Linked DNA regions of Homo sapiens. The protein of the gene in region 3 interacts with the protein of the main gene of each other region in a pairwise test. Each region holds a gene or a part of one and is shown on either strand. Other genes may lie near its edges.

What was found. Proteins that work in one complex are often made in the same cells at the same time.
Region 1: the proteins of TNIK (region 3) and USP24 interact in a two-hybrid assay, tested with the Homo sapiens proteins (one large-scale study listed by IntAct).
Region 2: the proteins of TNIK (region 3) and MTCL3 interact in a two-hybrid assay, tested with the Homo sapiens proteins (one large-scale study listed by IntAct).
Region 4: the proteins of TNIK (region 3) and PLCL2 interact in a two-hybrid assay, tested with the Homo sapiens proteins (one large-scale study listed by IntAct).

Annotation. Positions count from the first base shown.
Region 1 is NC_000001.11:55,208,865-55,212,364, forward strand, and holds part of USP24 (ubiquitin carboxyl-terminal hydrolase 24), read right to left. Parts: intron 1-3,500. UniProt on the Homo sapiens protein: Ubiquitin-specific protease that regulates cell survival in various contexts through modulating the protein stability of some of its substrates including DDB2, MCL1 or TP53.
Region 2 is NC_000006.12:127,484,836-127,488,335, forward strand, and holds part of MTCL3 (microtubule cross-linking factor 3 precursor), read right to left. Parts: intron 1-3,500.
Region 3 is NC_000003.12:171,081,780-171,087,107, forward strand, and holds part of TNIK (TRAF2 and NCK-interacting protein kinase), read right to left. Parts: intron 3,451-5,328; coding exon 3,339-3,450; intron 2,547-3,338; coding exon 2,376-2,546; intron 616-2,375; coding exon 472-615; intron 1-471. UniProt on the Homo sapiens protein: Serine/threonine kinase that acts as an essential activator of the Wnt signaling pathway. Recruited to promoters of Wnt target genes and required to activate their expression. May act by phosphorylating TCF4/TCF7L2.
Region 4 is NC_000003.12:17,083,955-17,087,454, reverse strand, and holds part of PLCL2 (inactive phospholipase C-like protein 2), read right to left. Parts: intron 1-3,500. UniProt on the Homo sapiens protein: May play an role in the regulation of Ins(1,4,5)P3 around the endoplasmic reticulum.

The DNA of each region.
Region 1 (3,500 bases), on a different chromosome or scaffold from region 3:
GGCGGACGTTGCAGTGAGCCAAGATCACACCACTGCACTCCAGCCTGGGTGAAAGAGCAAAACTCCATCTTAAAAAAACAAAACAAAACAAAAAAAACCCAATAATGTCACCTACTATCAATATGAGCTTAACGAAAATTTTTATGTCAGTTGTGACTGAAAAATGTGATAACACTAAACAATAAAAATTCCTATGATAAAGAAAATGAAAAATACAAGCTTAAAAAAGGAAGTAAAACTCCCTAGAAAAAAAAGGGAGGAAAAAAACATTTACTCTTTTGAAAATGAAGCACAACTCTCTTAGTCGTACCTCTGCAATCTAGTATCATGACTGAAATGTCCTCACATCTGAATTTTCCAGGTGTCTGAAGCCTACTTCTTTATCCATCCAACTTCTTCTTTTTTTTTCTTTTTAAAAGGAAAACCTTTCTAAAATACATTAAACATTCCTGACCCTTCTTAAGCAGACCACACTGGAACCTCTTCTTGACTGTGACATCATTGAAAACACAGTTATCCTCTCAGGGCCATGAAACACATAATAAAGCTGTTTCAAATCACCCTACACAAATCGGCTAGTGTGATTTGGTTGAGTCGGCTTTTAAAGCTTTCCTGTTCCCTCCTTGACCACTAAGCTGCTACTGTCACTTCTCACTATTGTCAAATGAGCTTGTCTCTAAGAGCTCATCACCTTGTGTTTAGATTGCCATAAAACCATTCTAATTTGATAGGAAACCTAATATTGAAACTTGTTTGAACTGTATTTTTTGTTAAGTTTAAACACAAATGAAAGAAATGCATGAGCTTTAGTGCACTTAGAGCGCTTAGTGAGTGGAGTGCATGAGCTTTAATGCATGTACGAAGGTGTTCTGAAATGGTTCCATCTTATGTGTTTACTTCTTATTTCTCTCTGTGGTTCCATATAAGGAAAATTTCCAGGAAAACTGAACTCCAGATTTCAGATTCTACTAAATCTTTTTTAACATTTTCTTATTAAAAGTAAAAAACGCCCTCCTTCACACTCAGATCAAGTAAATGGTATATGATATTGTAGGCAGTAAGTATAAAAATACTTAAGTATATGGACATATTTTTCTATTAATGTTGAAACCTTTTCCTCAAATTGCTAAAACATTACAACATTTGCTTTTCTAACATTGAAATTGTTTTCAAAATTTAAGCTAACAATATTATTATGCTGTATAAAGCTGTCACAACCTACTATGATTTCACTAAAACCACACTCACAGACACACGAAAGGTACTCTCTTCATGCCAAATTACATTCATTCTAAAAGTGAATGGGCAGGTAATTACAAGGTGAGACTCCAACCATTAGATTAACTCACAGACCTAATTCCCAAAGGAGATATATATACATATACTGGATCAGAAAGAAATTCTTATTTAAAAATTAGGCCATGCTGATTCATCTTTAATTCCCTATTTTTATTTCATCTACTTTCAACTGATTTGGGAAATTATTTCATTTTTTTACTCTAAAGCCTTTAAAGGGCCTTTTTTTATTTACCAAATCACAGTAATTCATAAACCACAGGTCATGTACCAAATCACTAATAGTTAACTAAAAGCTACTCATTTGATATTTACTCCACACTCATACTAGGGTTGTTGTATTTTAGGAAAAGAATAACATGAATTTTACCATAAACCTTAATTATACACATTGACAGTATTACAATTTTAATCCATTTATAATTACCACTTACTACCAAAGGGGAACAAGAGAAATAGGAATGAGGTAAGTTAAGGAACTACAAATTAATATGCTTCTTATTTTTATGTGACTTAGATATATTAACAGCAGGACCAACTTTGGGGCTCTAAACTTAAAAAAACAAAAAAGCAATGAAATCTTGAAAGTACTCCTGACAAAACAATACCTCCAGAAAGAACATCCACATTAAAACAGGAACAAAACAAGGAGTTCACAATGTTTATCAGATCACAGTATTAAATGTCACTTCTGGGAATATTAATTAACAGCACTAGACAGCTAAGAAAGGTATTTCCTCAGTTAATATGAAATCTCCTTCCAAAAACTTCCATTTTAGTATTTTCTAAAGACAAACTTAATGAATAAGGTATTCATTATAGTATTAATGTTTGATGGTATTCCTTATGGATAAGGTACATTTCATAATTGTTAAGTTCTGTGAGATGCACAGGATACCTGGTTCAGATTTCTACTGATCCCCTGGAGAGATTACAAAGGCCCAACTCTTCCTGTTGTGTAGAGAACAGAACCAATTGGTACGCACTTGGCAGGCCAGAGTTTACATTAGCCATGCAGTAAAGAGTGAAGAATTCTGACAGGGGGGTGGTTAAAAATCAGAATAAGTTATTTAGAGCAGCTGTGAGAGCTCACTCTCTTTAATAATAGAACAGACTCTTATGTGCCGTGGAATGATTTTGAAGTAATGCTATTCAAAATCAAAACTGGACAGCTTCTCAAAGTCCCTTCCAGACCCAGAGACCAAGAACATTTACATCCAACAATACTAGTGAGAACCAAACACATCTCTTCTGCAAAACACTATCTTTACTTAATTGGAGGATATTAACAAGGTGGCTTTCTATGCAGTTGTGTGTTTTGCTAGATATCTGGGTCTTTTTTATCTGCATTCTCCTTGCTTCTACTGAACCGGAAGTTAACAGCTTTCACTGTTCAAATATTAATTTTTAAACCAAACCCTAATTACAGCAGGGCCTCAAACTGATTTACCTAACTAGCTACATGACCTTGGACAGTCTTTTCTTGTAAAATGAGAGGCTTGGACTAAGACCCACTAGAATGTAAACACCACGTTCTGTTCAACACTCTACTCCCTGCCCCTGGGACAGGAAGGCATTAAGAGAAAACCATTGCTATCCCCAAACTACAAATATAAAAAAACTTAAGTCATTTCTTTCTTTTCTAATCAATTAGATTTTATTCTGTTTTTCCCATTTTTAAAGAAGACAATGACACTGAAATGTCCTGTGCAGCAAATAGAAATGTATATAATTTAAAATAAGGTACTCAGTTTTTAGAAATAAAAAGGATTAACTATATAATAGCTGACAATCTTCACCCAGTTTTTTTACTCTTCTTCCTTCCCTTTAACCCATTACTGTGTCCCATTCCTTTTTCCTTTGAAAGAGAGCCCGAAAGAGTGCAGGACTTCAAGCAAAAGGGCCTGAGTACTAGCCCCACCTCTTCTATTAACTGACTCTGTGGGGACAAGCCACTTCCCCTTTGGGGCCCGAAAGGGTGCATCTGTTAAACAAGGGAGCTGCACTAATTATTAATTTCTAAAGTATGCTTCTTTTTAAAAAATCTGATTCACCTTATATTCTACCCATTATTCGATTCTTAATGGTTGGTGCTCACCACATCATTGCACAGTAGCCTTAAAATATGTCTTTCCCTCATTATTTCTCCTTACTATCCATACTGTTACCAAACAAATTTAATCCTAAAACCATGAGTTGAGCAG
Region 2 (3,500 bases), on a different chromosome or scaffold from region 3:
CCTTTTAGCCTCACTTTGCAGGTGCTGAAACTAAAGTTTACAGGGGTAACAGAAGTAGATGAATAAATTATCAAAAGCATCAGTTATCTCTGTGCTCCTCAGAACAGCATCATCAGTGTCACCCAGAAAGCTGTTGGAAAAGCAAATTCTTGAGATTCATCCCAGAACCACTGATTCAGAAACTCTGAGGATGAGGCCCAGTGATCTATGATTTAATAAGCTAAAGTTTGCAAATGTCTAAAGTTACTAGTTGGTAACAATAACTTCAGACCTTGACCCAAGTCTTTCTCATATCTAACTGTTAGCTATTAGATCACTAAGGAGAAAGACTTTATCTAATCTAGGGCTAGAGATGGTGTGGGGAGCTAGGGATAATTTCCAAAATGAGTAGCATCTTATCTAGAATCTGGTGCATGAGTAGTTAGCCAATGGAAGATGAAGAGGAGGAAAAGGGAAAAAAAAAGGCATTCCACATAGAAAAACCATTTCTGGGACAGAAATTCCATATGGGTGTTACAGAGTGAGAGGAGAGGAGTGACATGAGATTTGCTGGTGGCATAAGTCAGATCTTGAAGGACATTGAATAAAGATTGAATTTTATCTTATTCAGGTCAAATTATTGTCCTAGGGTCAACTTGGAGCACTAAATGCTCCTATTGAGCAAGAAATGTCATAATTAGACTGTCATAGAGATATACAAAGACACAAGGGTGGCAGTACAAATCGCTGTGAGATAAAGATGTTACATGCAGGGGTTTCAAGGGAAAGTATGTTCTAGTTCTGGAAATGTTTTTTGGTCTTTGTGTTTCATTCATTTCATAGGTATTTAGTTTCTGGTCTATATGTGGTACTGTATATATGCCAAACACATGTGACTAAGAAATATTGTACTCTTTCCCCAAAGAGCTAACTGTTTATAATGATAAAAAGGATGCAATTAGCAAAAACAGTGGGCAGAACTAACTCAGGGCAATAAATGAACAAAAAGGGACTGAGAGGGCAAAGGAAGAAGCTCTAATTCCAGATCTGGGGAATCAGAGAAAATCATTCAAGAGAACTGACTTTTGAAGGATATGCAAAATTTCAACAGAAATAAAACTGAACAAACTGTTGTAGGAGTAAAGATATAGAGGAATGAGTTTGCCTTTCAGATGCACTAACTCCTGAAAAGAAGTGATGGAGGTAGGGCCACTGTAGAGATGGGGTAAAAGAAGATGCAGAAAAGATTGAGGTCAGCTTGTGCAGCTGAGAAATTTAGACTTTATCCTGTGGGCAATGTTAAAATGAGACCTCTAAATTAATATAAGAGCAATGCTGAAATTAGGGCATTCTTTCCTAAGAGGCATTTTCTATTTTGCTTTTATTTAAATATCACTCAGGTGGAGTGTTAAGCTCAAATAAAGCTCTGAAGTAAAGCCTTCCCCTTGAATAAAGATACATTAGCTTTCAGGTGCCTTTAGGGCTGCTACTATGTGTAAGTATCACATTTGCATTTTCAATAAATATTTCATATTTTCATATTCCAGTAAGTTTATGTTAACTTTCTGAATCCTATGAAACAAAGATGAGACATTTCTATGGATACAGAAAGTTAGAGAAATAATGTGAGTCCAAGTAGTCCCTTTCCTGTGAGGATGAAACTGTGTAACCTCCCCCCTTGTCATCCTCCCCCACCATCATCCACTAAATCTTGTAACCTCTGCTAGGGGAGCAGTTGGGGAGGCCACAATGAAATCTCAGATTTTCATATTTGCTGGCAAAGCAGGCACTTCTCTAGATGGTTCTCTAGATAAATACGTTGAAAACATTTATTGTCCACTTCTTAATTCTTTACATTCCCAGCCTCAGCTTGTCCAAAAGAGGCTGCTGTTTTTTTTGATCATGAGAAGGCCAGGAATTAGAGAGTTTTGCCAGTAATTATTTTTTCACAGCAATGATATAAAATGGGTTGTTTGTTTTCTAAAAATGTTTTGAGATTATCTTCCTTTTCTCAATTAAAATTTACTCCACTTAGTATGTAGCATCTTTATGTTTTCAGCAATTAAACCACAGAGAAGAATGTGCCTAACATGCTACCAAAAGACATATTATGCATATAGAAGTCTCCTATGCTGTTGATAAAATTAAAGAGAGATTCATTTGTGTGGTAATTAAATCAAGAAGGAAACTATAGAGACATTAATATTTAGATCTTTTGAGCCCTAAATATGTGTCATGCACTTTTCTAAGCACTTTATATGTATCTACTCATTCAGACTGACAACAGACTTATTGACACCATTGTCTGAAGCACACAATGGATTTATCGCTCAGCTAGCTAGTGTTAGAACCAGGATGCAAATTAGCCAGTTTCAGAGTTCCCACTCTGAACAACTACATTATACTGTTACTTCGACAGAAAAAGGTGCAATTTAGATAGCAGGCTTATATTATTTCTGAGCATATCCTTTATGGTAACAGAGCGTGACAGCAAGGTTTGGGGTACTAGGTTACATATATGACACATGTGCAGAAGTTTTAATATTTTCAACACAGGGATCAGCAGAAGTGACATACACCACTTACTGGTTCTTAAATCAATCTGTAAATACTGTGACTATAGGGTAACACTGGGAGGGAGGCCCAGGGATTGCCTGCTGGAAGGAAACTGAAAAAGGTAGAAGCTCTGTCTCCAACTTGTCTTGGAAGGGGACAGAATGGGCTCTTGTTCCTAGAAGTCTTCCTCTTTTCCTTCTATTACATCCTTGACACTTACCCAGACAGACTGGCAGAGGCAGAACAGGTGAAGTGCCCAGAGAGCTTACTTAGGACCACATTCACTCTCTTCCCTAAAAGGGTGAGGCAGGATCCCAAGCTTCATACTAAGGCATGATCTTAAGGTCCAGAGGGGAATGTGGGTGAAGAAGAGGCACATGCCAGGGTGATCAAGCTGTATCATCCTGTGCAAAATCTTTCAGTGGCTTCCCATCTCACTGAGTTAGAGTCATGCTTTACTAAGGTATACCAGACCCTGACTACACACTGGATTTATTCTGGTAATGTTTTATAAAGACTTGACCAGATTTCAACCCAGACCAATTAAAACAGATTTTGGGATTGGGCCCAGACATTTTTTCAAAGCTCCCAGAGTGACTAGAATGTGTAGCTGGTTCTGTCAACTACCAGCCCACTCTATGTGGTCACCCCACCCCCCAATCCCACATCCCAAACAAGCCCTTCAACCTCATCTCCCACCACACTCCTCACTGCTTTCTTTGCTCTAGTGTCACAGGCATCCTTGCAGTTCCTCAAACATACCAAGTATGCCCTTGTTTGGGGCCTTTGGATTATGGCTTCCTCTGCCTGCAACATTCTTCCATCATATACTCTCATGACCCACTTCCATAGTCTCTTCAGGGTTCCTAATAAGAGAGACCTTCCCAGGCCATTTCATATCAAAAAGCAAATCCTTCGGCCATTCTCTTCCTTTGCATATTCCTTGTCTTCCTAATTCTGCTTTT
Region 3 (5,328 bases):
TTTTGTAGACTTGATCACCCAGTGTGCCAGCTGCACCTGCCAAAACATCAGTGGGCTATAAGCAAGAGAATTTTTGAGGGAAGAGACCAAGAAATTTCTGCTTACTAAATGTCCCTCTAGGAAGCCTGCATTTTGATATTCTGTCTGTATGTGGTAATAACTGGAGTGCAGAAACCTTAAAAACATCCGAAGATCCTTGCTGAGTCCTGACAGAGGTAAAGAGCTATAAATATATAGCCTTTGTGGTATGTCTCTGCCTAATTCAGATTTAATGCAGAGGTGAGAGACTTCTTTTTGGAGGTCAGAATTCCCAGTGTTACAAAATGTGGGCAATCTCACTCTGGCTATACTGCTATACTTTATTGTGTTGTTTGTTAGCTGGGAAGGGCAGAACTAACTGTTTCTGCAGAAATGAGGTGGATCCCTTTCCCGCTGTATGGACCTGGGGGACTCATCATCTTAGTAACATACCTGAAATTGTCACAAGGACATTCAGTCCCTCTAGCACATCCATCTGCTGAAATCGCCTCCGGTTGATCAGATTATAGACTTTGCCTTGCCCACTTCGGTCCAAAAGCATCAGGCCATTTTCAGTCCCCACCAGAAGGTTTACACCTGTAAATTTAAGAAGCACCCTAAGACTGACTTTTCATGAACTTTAATCTTCTGCATCGAGAGTCCCTATAAAATTTAAGAAACTGTGACTTGTAAATATACACTAATGGGCAAGTAGGTAAATATAAACTAATGAATGTAGAAGCTCTGACATAATAATTAAATCATTGTACTTCTGGTAATGAAATTACAGTTTTCTTTTATAAAGTTAGCAGCATTCATACATCTAGTTATTTACTACCTAATGCAGAGAGTCCTTGTCAATAGGAGCCTTAGGCACAGATGTGAAGCTAGCATAATTTGCCTTTATTCCCTGCCTGGAAAAACCACTTCTTTCTTGGCTCTCCCTATAAATCACTTCTCTTCTTCCCCAAGATTCACCCCCACCCCTATGCAGTGGTCTCTAGCCTACCCACCTTCAATATACAGTGGAATTTCCATTTCCATACTCCAATGGAAGAAAGGCCCTTCCTCCTTCTTGAATCAAAATGTAACTATCTTATGCCCCATACCCTCAAGTTTTTGCTCTTTTTTAGGGAAATGATAAACCCATTCAAGAGAAGTGTTAATAGCTGGAGAGTCACAGACATACTCACTTTAAGGGACTTCTCAGGTCTCTAAATCTAGTGCAGCCCAACACCCATGCAGTAATCCCTATTACAGAAGCACAGGCACATAAGTGGCTTTGTCTGGGTAGTTGTAATCCTAAAAATTTATGGCTAGGGAAATGTATCATCCACCCCTCAACACACACACACATTGAGAGGCTCATTGTGCAGTGTACTTTATTCATGAACATGTAACTCTCTAACTTCTCTTACGTCTTGTACTTCTATCTTCTGATCAACACAAATGTCTGCTTTTTTGTCCATATATTAATCCTTTCAGTATTAAATGTGGCTATCTTGTTCTCTTCTGTCTCTTCTCCAGAGGACAGAGCCTCTATCATGAAATGGTTCCTAGGCTTCACACTCTTCCCCGCTAACATCTCAAATGCTTTCAGCCTTTTAAAATTATGGTTCCCCAATCCAAGCCTAGTATTTTCAGTGGGTACACAGGGGACATGTCCTTCCTTAATCTGTATGAGATGTTTATAGTAACACAGACCAAGACTTTGATAGAATCTCATCATGCCTCTCCTGAGTTTGAGGTCAGCTAAAACCTGCAGATCTTTTTCACGAGAAAATGCAGATTGATGTTTTAAACTAAAAGGGAAAGTTCATTAAATTATTTGTTGTTCTTTTCAAGTTTTATCTTGTTATTGCTAGGGTTATGACCTTTAGTAATTCACAAAAATACTCTGGGCTGATTTTTCAGCTTGAAATAAAGGTTTATGCCATTATTTATGCTCATATTCCCCTTGCAGGATGTGGTATGGATCATGGAGAATGAACGTGGGGTATATCACAAAGTGCCAGACACAAATCGCCTCTGATTGATCACATTATAGGCTTTGCTTTGCCCACTCAATGTATTCAGTGGTAGCTAGTTCTCTTGTTGGCTTTAGCCTATCACTATTGTGTGACAAGGTTGCTCTGAATCTAATCTCGTCTTCCTGGCTAGTAGCGTATCAGCTATTTCTACATATAAAACTCCTTTTGGTTTCTCCTGAGGTCAAGATAGTCCCAAGTTAGGTCTCTAATACCCAGGATTCAACCAGTGTTCTTTTGATGACAAGATCCACAGGCTTTTAATGTTTGAGGGTCAGTTCATTAATGAGTGGTTATTTAAAAAAAAAAAAAAAAAAAGCACCAACATACCCCACAGAGCTGCACAAAGTATTTCTGAGTTGAATCGTTTCTTGTATTTTCTGATTTCTGGTGTGTCGCTATGAGGCCGAATGTTGGTTGGGTTTACATTTACCACCGAAATCTTTCTTGCTTCATTGAGTTTGGCCTGTTCTTGCCTAAGAAGTTCGCTAGTAAACAGAGCTTTGAGAAAAAGAATCAGAGAAGTCAGTGACATCTTAAAAGATAACTTATGGAGATGGGGCTTCAAAACACTATGATTTCTCCTTGTTTGGTTTGAATTATAGTAAAGGCAAGGAAACTCTGAAACTCTCCTTATTTTACACTTTTTTTTTGTTTTAGTAGAATAAAGTCTAAGTCATTCATCAAAGGAATCTTTTATTCATTAGAAAAACAGGCTTATAGACACTACTTGCAGAGTCTAGAAAGTCCCAAATTAAATACACCATCCCCACTCTTGTATATAGGCAAAAAAGATCTACTTTTTAAAATTGCAGTTTATCAGTTGAAAAACTGTCCTAAGCTGACTTTGATGATTAATTACTTGAAGAAGATTAGAAAGCAAGACTCCTTTAAATCAGCCTGATCTTTGTGGTGGGAAGCACACACCTAGAACTCAACACAATGTACCATACACTTATTAAGTGCCTAATGTGTGTAAAACATTGTACCCAGAAATTGTTTTGGGGAAACATTTAGTTATGTTCAGAGATCACTGAGGAACAGCTTTTCCTAGGGTCCCTATGTACCCCTGGGTCTACCAGAAACGAAATAGAAGAGATGGGAAAAAAAATGGAAAGTAATACATTTGTTTTAGGAGTCCTACAGAAATAATAATTTTAAAAAGTCTTCCTTTTAAGATAGGACCTAAGCAGTAATCAGCTTAACTACTGAACTGAGGATTAATTTCCTTATCAGGTCATACCAGAAAGGAAGACGAAGCTGTTTTTTAAACACAGGGCCCTTCTTGCTTACCTGCGGCTGATGATTCCTCATCCTCTTCATCTTCATCAGTGGGAGACGTCTGGTATACTCTGGGGTCCACAAAGGGGGTGAAGGAGGCTTTGGTGCTGCTCCCCATGCCATACTAATCAATAAGCAAGAAGATTAAGAAGAGCAGATAAATACTGCAGGAATAACAATGCTAACAATACTGTGCTTGGGCTGTAAAACGATCACAGATTCTTCAAGGTATTCAGGTGTTCACATTCTAGTGCTCTAGTCAGTGCGTGCCTGTCTCCAGCTTCTTCTGGTATTGGTTACTCACTAGTCATTGTGCATTCGTAGGACTTCATTAATTATCAGACTGCAAGAATTGTAGTGAGAAAATTACATTTTGGACCACATGTGGCACCTTAAAATCTGTAAGATCACTGTGGTGACAGAGCTTACCTCTCCCTTTCAGTAAAAGCAACCTCCTATATTGACTACTTGATCAATATGAAAAGCTGACATAATTGGCAATAAACTAAGTAAGGAAGCCTATACAGCAGTACTTTATCCTGAACAGAGTCAAACCAAGGGGCTTTCTCTTGGGGAGGAGAGCTTTGAGCCCTTCTACTCTGGCCTGGTGATGCAAGTGAATTGGTGTTGGCTCCAAAAGCTTTAAAATCCTCAATTCAGGGATGATTTTATGCTGGAATTGAAGATATTTCCTTCCCACGATAGTTTCCTTAAAAGAATAATTACATTTACATCCTTATTTAGGGACTTCATGAGGATATTACGTTTGTGAGCAATGTACCTTGAAGGCTTACTTTAAAAAATGAATCTTGGGCTTGAATGGCACCATGAAAACATGATGTCAGAAGGAGATGAGGGAACAGTAAACTCAATATCAGGGTTTTATGTCACAATATTCTAAATTTGAGTTTTGCTGAATAAGCTGCAATGTCAGTCATGTCCATTTCTTCTATTCTTGTCCTTTAACATCATAAACACATCTGTATTCAACATAATAAGCACATCTTTTTTGGATAAATATCTTTAACTAAAGGTTATTTCACTTTAGTTTTACTGTTAGGTTTTTATTTAAAAATAAAACCACCATCCAAGACCTCTAAACATATAAGGAGAAAACCACAAAGATCTAATCTGATTTAATTCAAGATTTTCTTTCCATCCTATGAAATCAAAACCATTTCATCCTCCTCAAGGTTGAATTCCCCCTACCAAATAGAACACTTTCACGTACATGTTCTCTTTTGATCTTTGGAAGATGTCTGTGAAAGAGGTAGGGCAGGCACTAACATTTCCACATAGAGCTGGGGCAGCAGCAGAATTTGAACCAGGGTTCAATCTTATGGTGTCCTCCTTGGTACCAAGAGAGGTGTTCAGGCAGAAAATGCCCACACAGCATGAAATTACAATAGGATGCTGTGCTTTGCAGTATATCACTGTGTTCTTTTCCTTGGGGTATGCAAAGCTCATCTACTCTATAACTTTAGAATTCAAAGGGTGCATCATAAAAACTTAGTGTGTGGACAATGTCAAAAATAATAGTACATGTGCTTTATAAACACATTTAGGGCCTTACGTGTGATTGACAAGACTGTTAATGAAACAAGACTACACACTGTGAACTCATCCAACTGGTGTCAGTCATCAGCGTCTATGGGCACTACCTACAGATTGTGTTTATTCAGACTTTTCGCTGGGGCTGTTTCTCTACAGGAAAGGTAATGCTTGGTTTCTTTCTTCTCACACAATTTTGAATTTATGAAAGATGAACACTCTAAGAACTTATCTATTTATTAAATTTTATTTTTCATAAACAAATCATTTAAACTTCATTTTACTTAAGTCATACTTAGTTTGACTAAATTAACACAAATATAAACCTCAACTGTTGGCCTTGAAATCTGTGTAGCCTGAAGTTTCCATCAGAACTGGAGGTCCCAGTTCTGGTCTTAGATCTGTCACAAACCAGCTGTGTGTCTTGGACAAGTCATTCAACCTCTGTGAA
Region 4 (3,500 bases), about 150 Mb from region 3:
GCCTTTTCAACAATGTCGTCTAGTTGGAAACACAGTGTGTAGCCTTTTTGGATTGGCTTCTTTCGCTTAGTAATATGCATTTAAATTTCCTCCATGTCGTCTCATGGCTTGATAGCTCATATCTTTTTAGTGCTGAATAATATTCCATTGTCTGGATGCACTGCAGTTTATTTATCCATTCATTTACTTCAGGACATCTATGTTGCTTCCAAATTTTGGCAATTAAAAATAACTCTGCTATAAGCATCTGTATGCAGATTTTTGTGTTGACATAAGTTTCCAATTCATTTAGGTACATTCCAAGGGGTATGATCGCTGGATCATATGGTAAGAGTATGTTTAGTTCTGTAAGAACTACAGATAGTTTGACAGTTTCTTCCAAATTGTCTGCACCATTTTGCATTTCCACCAGCATAAATGAAAGTTCCTGTTGTTTCACATCCTCGCCAGCATTTGGTGATGTTAGTTTTGTATTTTGGCTACTGTAATAGATGTGTATTGGTATCTCATTGTTGTTTTAATATATAATTTCCTAGTGACATGTGATGCTAATATACTTTCCATTTGTATATCTTCTTTGGCGAGGTGACTGTTCAGACTTTTGCCCAGTTTTTAATCAGGTTGTTTCCTTACTGTTGAGTTTTAAGGGTTCTTTGCATTTTTTAAGAGCTCTTTGACTGCTCAGACTTTTGCCCAGTTTTTAATCAGGTTGTTTCCTTACTGTTGAGTTTTAAGAGTTCTTTGCATATTTTGGAAAACAGTACTTTATCAGGTGTGTCCTTTGCAAGTATTTTCTCCCAGACTGTGGCTTCTCTTCTCATTCTCTTGACATTGTCTTTATAGAGCAGAAGTTTTAAATTTTAAGGAAGTCCAACTTACCCATTCTTCCTTTAATGGATTGTCTATGGTGGTGTATCTGAAAAAGCACTGCCATATCCAAGGTCGCCTAGATTTTATCCTGTGTTATCTTCTAGGAATTCTATAGCTTTGTGTTTTATCTTTAGGTCTATGATCTATTTTGAGTTAATTCTTGTGAAGGGTGTAAGATTTGTGCCTAGACTGAATTTTTCATGTGGATGTCCAGTTTTTCCAGCATGAATTGTTGAAAAGATGAAGTCTCTATTCCACTGTATTGCCTTTGCCTCTTTGCCAAAGATTGAGTAACTGCTTTGTGTGGGTCTATTTCTGGGCTCTTCTATCCTGTTCTGCTGATCTATTTGTCTATTCTTTTCACACTGTTTTATTTCCTGTAGCTTTGCAGTAAGTTTTAAAGTCAGATAAAGTCTGTCCTCTGATTTTATTCTTCTCCTTTAATATTGTGTTGGCTATTCTGGGTCTTTTGTTTCTCTCTTTAAACTTTGGAATCGGTTTGTCAATTTCCACAAAATAACTTGGTGGATTTATTTATTTATCTATTTTTATGCTTGCTGGAAGTTTGAGATTATGTTGAATCTATATATCAAGTTGGGAAGAACTGATATCTTGACAATATTAAGTCTTCCCATCCATGAATATGGAATATCTCTCCATTTACTTAATTCTTTGATACCTTTCACCAGAGTTTTATAGTTTTCCTCATATAAGTCATATATATGTTGTTAGATTTATACCTGAATATTTTATTTCTGGGGGTTCTAATGTAAATGGTCATGTGTTTTTAATTTCGAATTCCACTTGTTCTTTGCTGGTATATAAGAAATAAATTGGGCCGGGCATGGTGGCTCACGCCTGTAATCCCAGCACTTTGGGAGGCCGAGGCGGGCGGATCATGAGGTCAGGAGATCGAGACCATCCTGGCTAACATGGTGAAACCCCGTCTCTACTAAAAATACAAAAAATTAGCCGGGCGTGGTGGCGGGCGCCTGTAGTCCCAGCTACTTGGGAGGCTGAGGCAGAGAATGGCGTGAACCCAGGAGGTGGAGCTTGCAGTGAGCCGAGATCACACCACTGCACTCCAGCCTGGGCAACAAGAGCGACACTCTGTCTCACAAAGTGAGACTCCGCCTTAAAAAAAAAAAGAAATAAATTGGCTGGGTGTGGTGGCTCATGCCTGTAATCCCAGCACTTTGGGAGGCTAAGGCTTGAGCCTCAGGAGTTCAATACTGGCCTGGGCAACCTGGCGAAACCCCATCTCTATATAAAAATACAAAAATTAGCTGGGTATGTTGGTGTGCACCTGAAGTACCAGCTACTTGTGAGGCTGAGGTGGGAGGATCACCTGAGCCCAGGGAAGTCAAGGCTGCAGTGAGCCATGATCATGCCAGTACACTCCAGCCTGGGTGACAGAGTGAGACCCTGTCTCAAAATTTTTTTTTTCTTAAAAAAAGAAATCAATTGATTTTTGTATACTAACCTTGTTTCCTGCAACCCTGCCATAATTGCTCATTATATTGTTCGAGGAGATTTTTTTGTCAATTCTTTTGGATTTTCTACATAGATGATTATATCATCTGTGAACAGAGACAGTTTTATTTCTTCCTTCTCAAGATATATACCTTTTATTTTATTTTCTTGTCTTTCTTCATTAGCTAGGACTGGACTTCCAGGTCAATGTTGAAAGCAGTGGTGTCAGAGAACATCTTTGCTTTGTCCCTAATCTTATCGGGAATGCTTTCAGTTTCTCACCTTTAAATATGATGTAAGCAGTATGATTTTTGTAGATGTTCCTTATCAAGTTGAGTAAGGTCCTCTCTATTCCTAGTTCACTGAGAATTTTTGTCATGAATGGGAGTTGAATTTTGTCAAACTTTTTTTGCATCTACTGATACAACCACGAGCTTTGTCTTCTTTAGCCTGTTGATATGATGAATGACATTAGTTGATTTTCAAAAGTTAAATCAACCTTGTATACCCAGTATAAATCCCATTTGATCATGGTGAATAATTCTTTTTATTCATTTTTGGATTTTAATTGTTAATATTTTGTTAAGGATTTTTGCATCTGTGTTGATGAGAGATACTGGTCTATTGTTTTCTTTTCTTGTAATGTCTTTGGTTTGGTATTAAGGTAAAACTGGGTTGGTAGAATGAGTTAGGAAGTATTCACTCTGCTTCTATTTTCTGGAAGATATTGTAGAGAATTGGTATCATTTCTTTCTTAAATGTTTAGCAGAAACCAGTGAACCTATCTGTGCTGGTGCTTTTTGTTTTGGAGGCTTATTAATTATTGATTTGATTTCCTTAATAGATATAGAATTATTCAGATTGTATATTTCTTCTCATATGAGTTTTGGCAGATGGTACCTTTCAAGGAATTGGCCTATTTCATCTAGGTTTTCAAGTTTGTGGGCATAGAATTGTTCATAATATTCCTTCATTATCCTTTTAGTGTCCATAAAATCTGTGGTGATATCCTTTATTTCATTTCTGACATTAGTAATTTGTATCATCTCTTTCTTAGTTAGCTTGACTAAAGACTTACTGATTTTAATAAGGTTTTCAAAGGACTAGCTTTTGGTTTTACTGATTTTTCTCTATGTATTTTCTGTTTTTAATGTCAT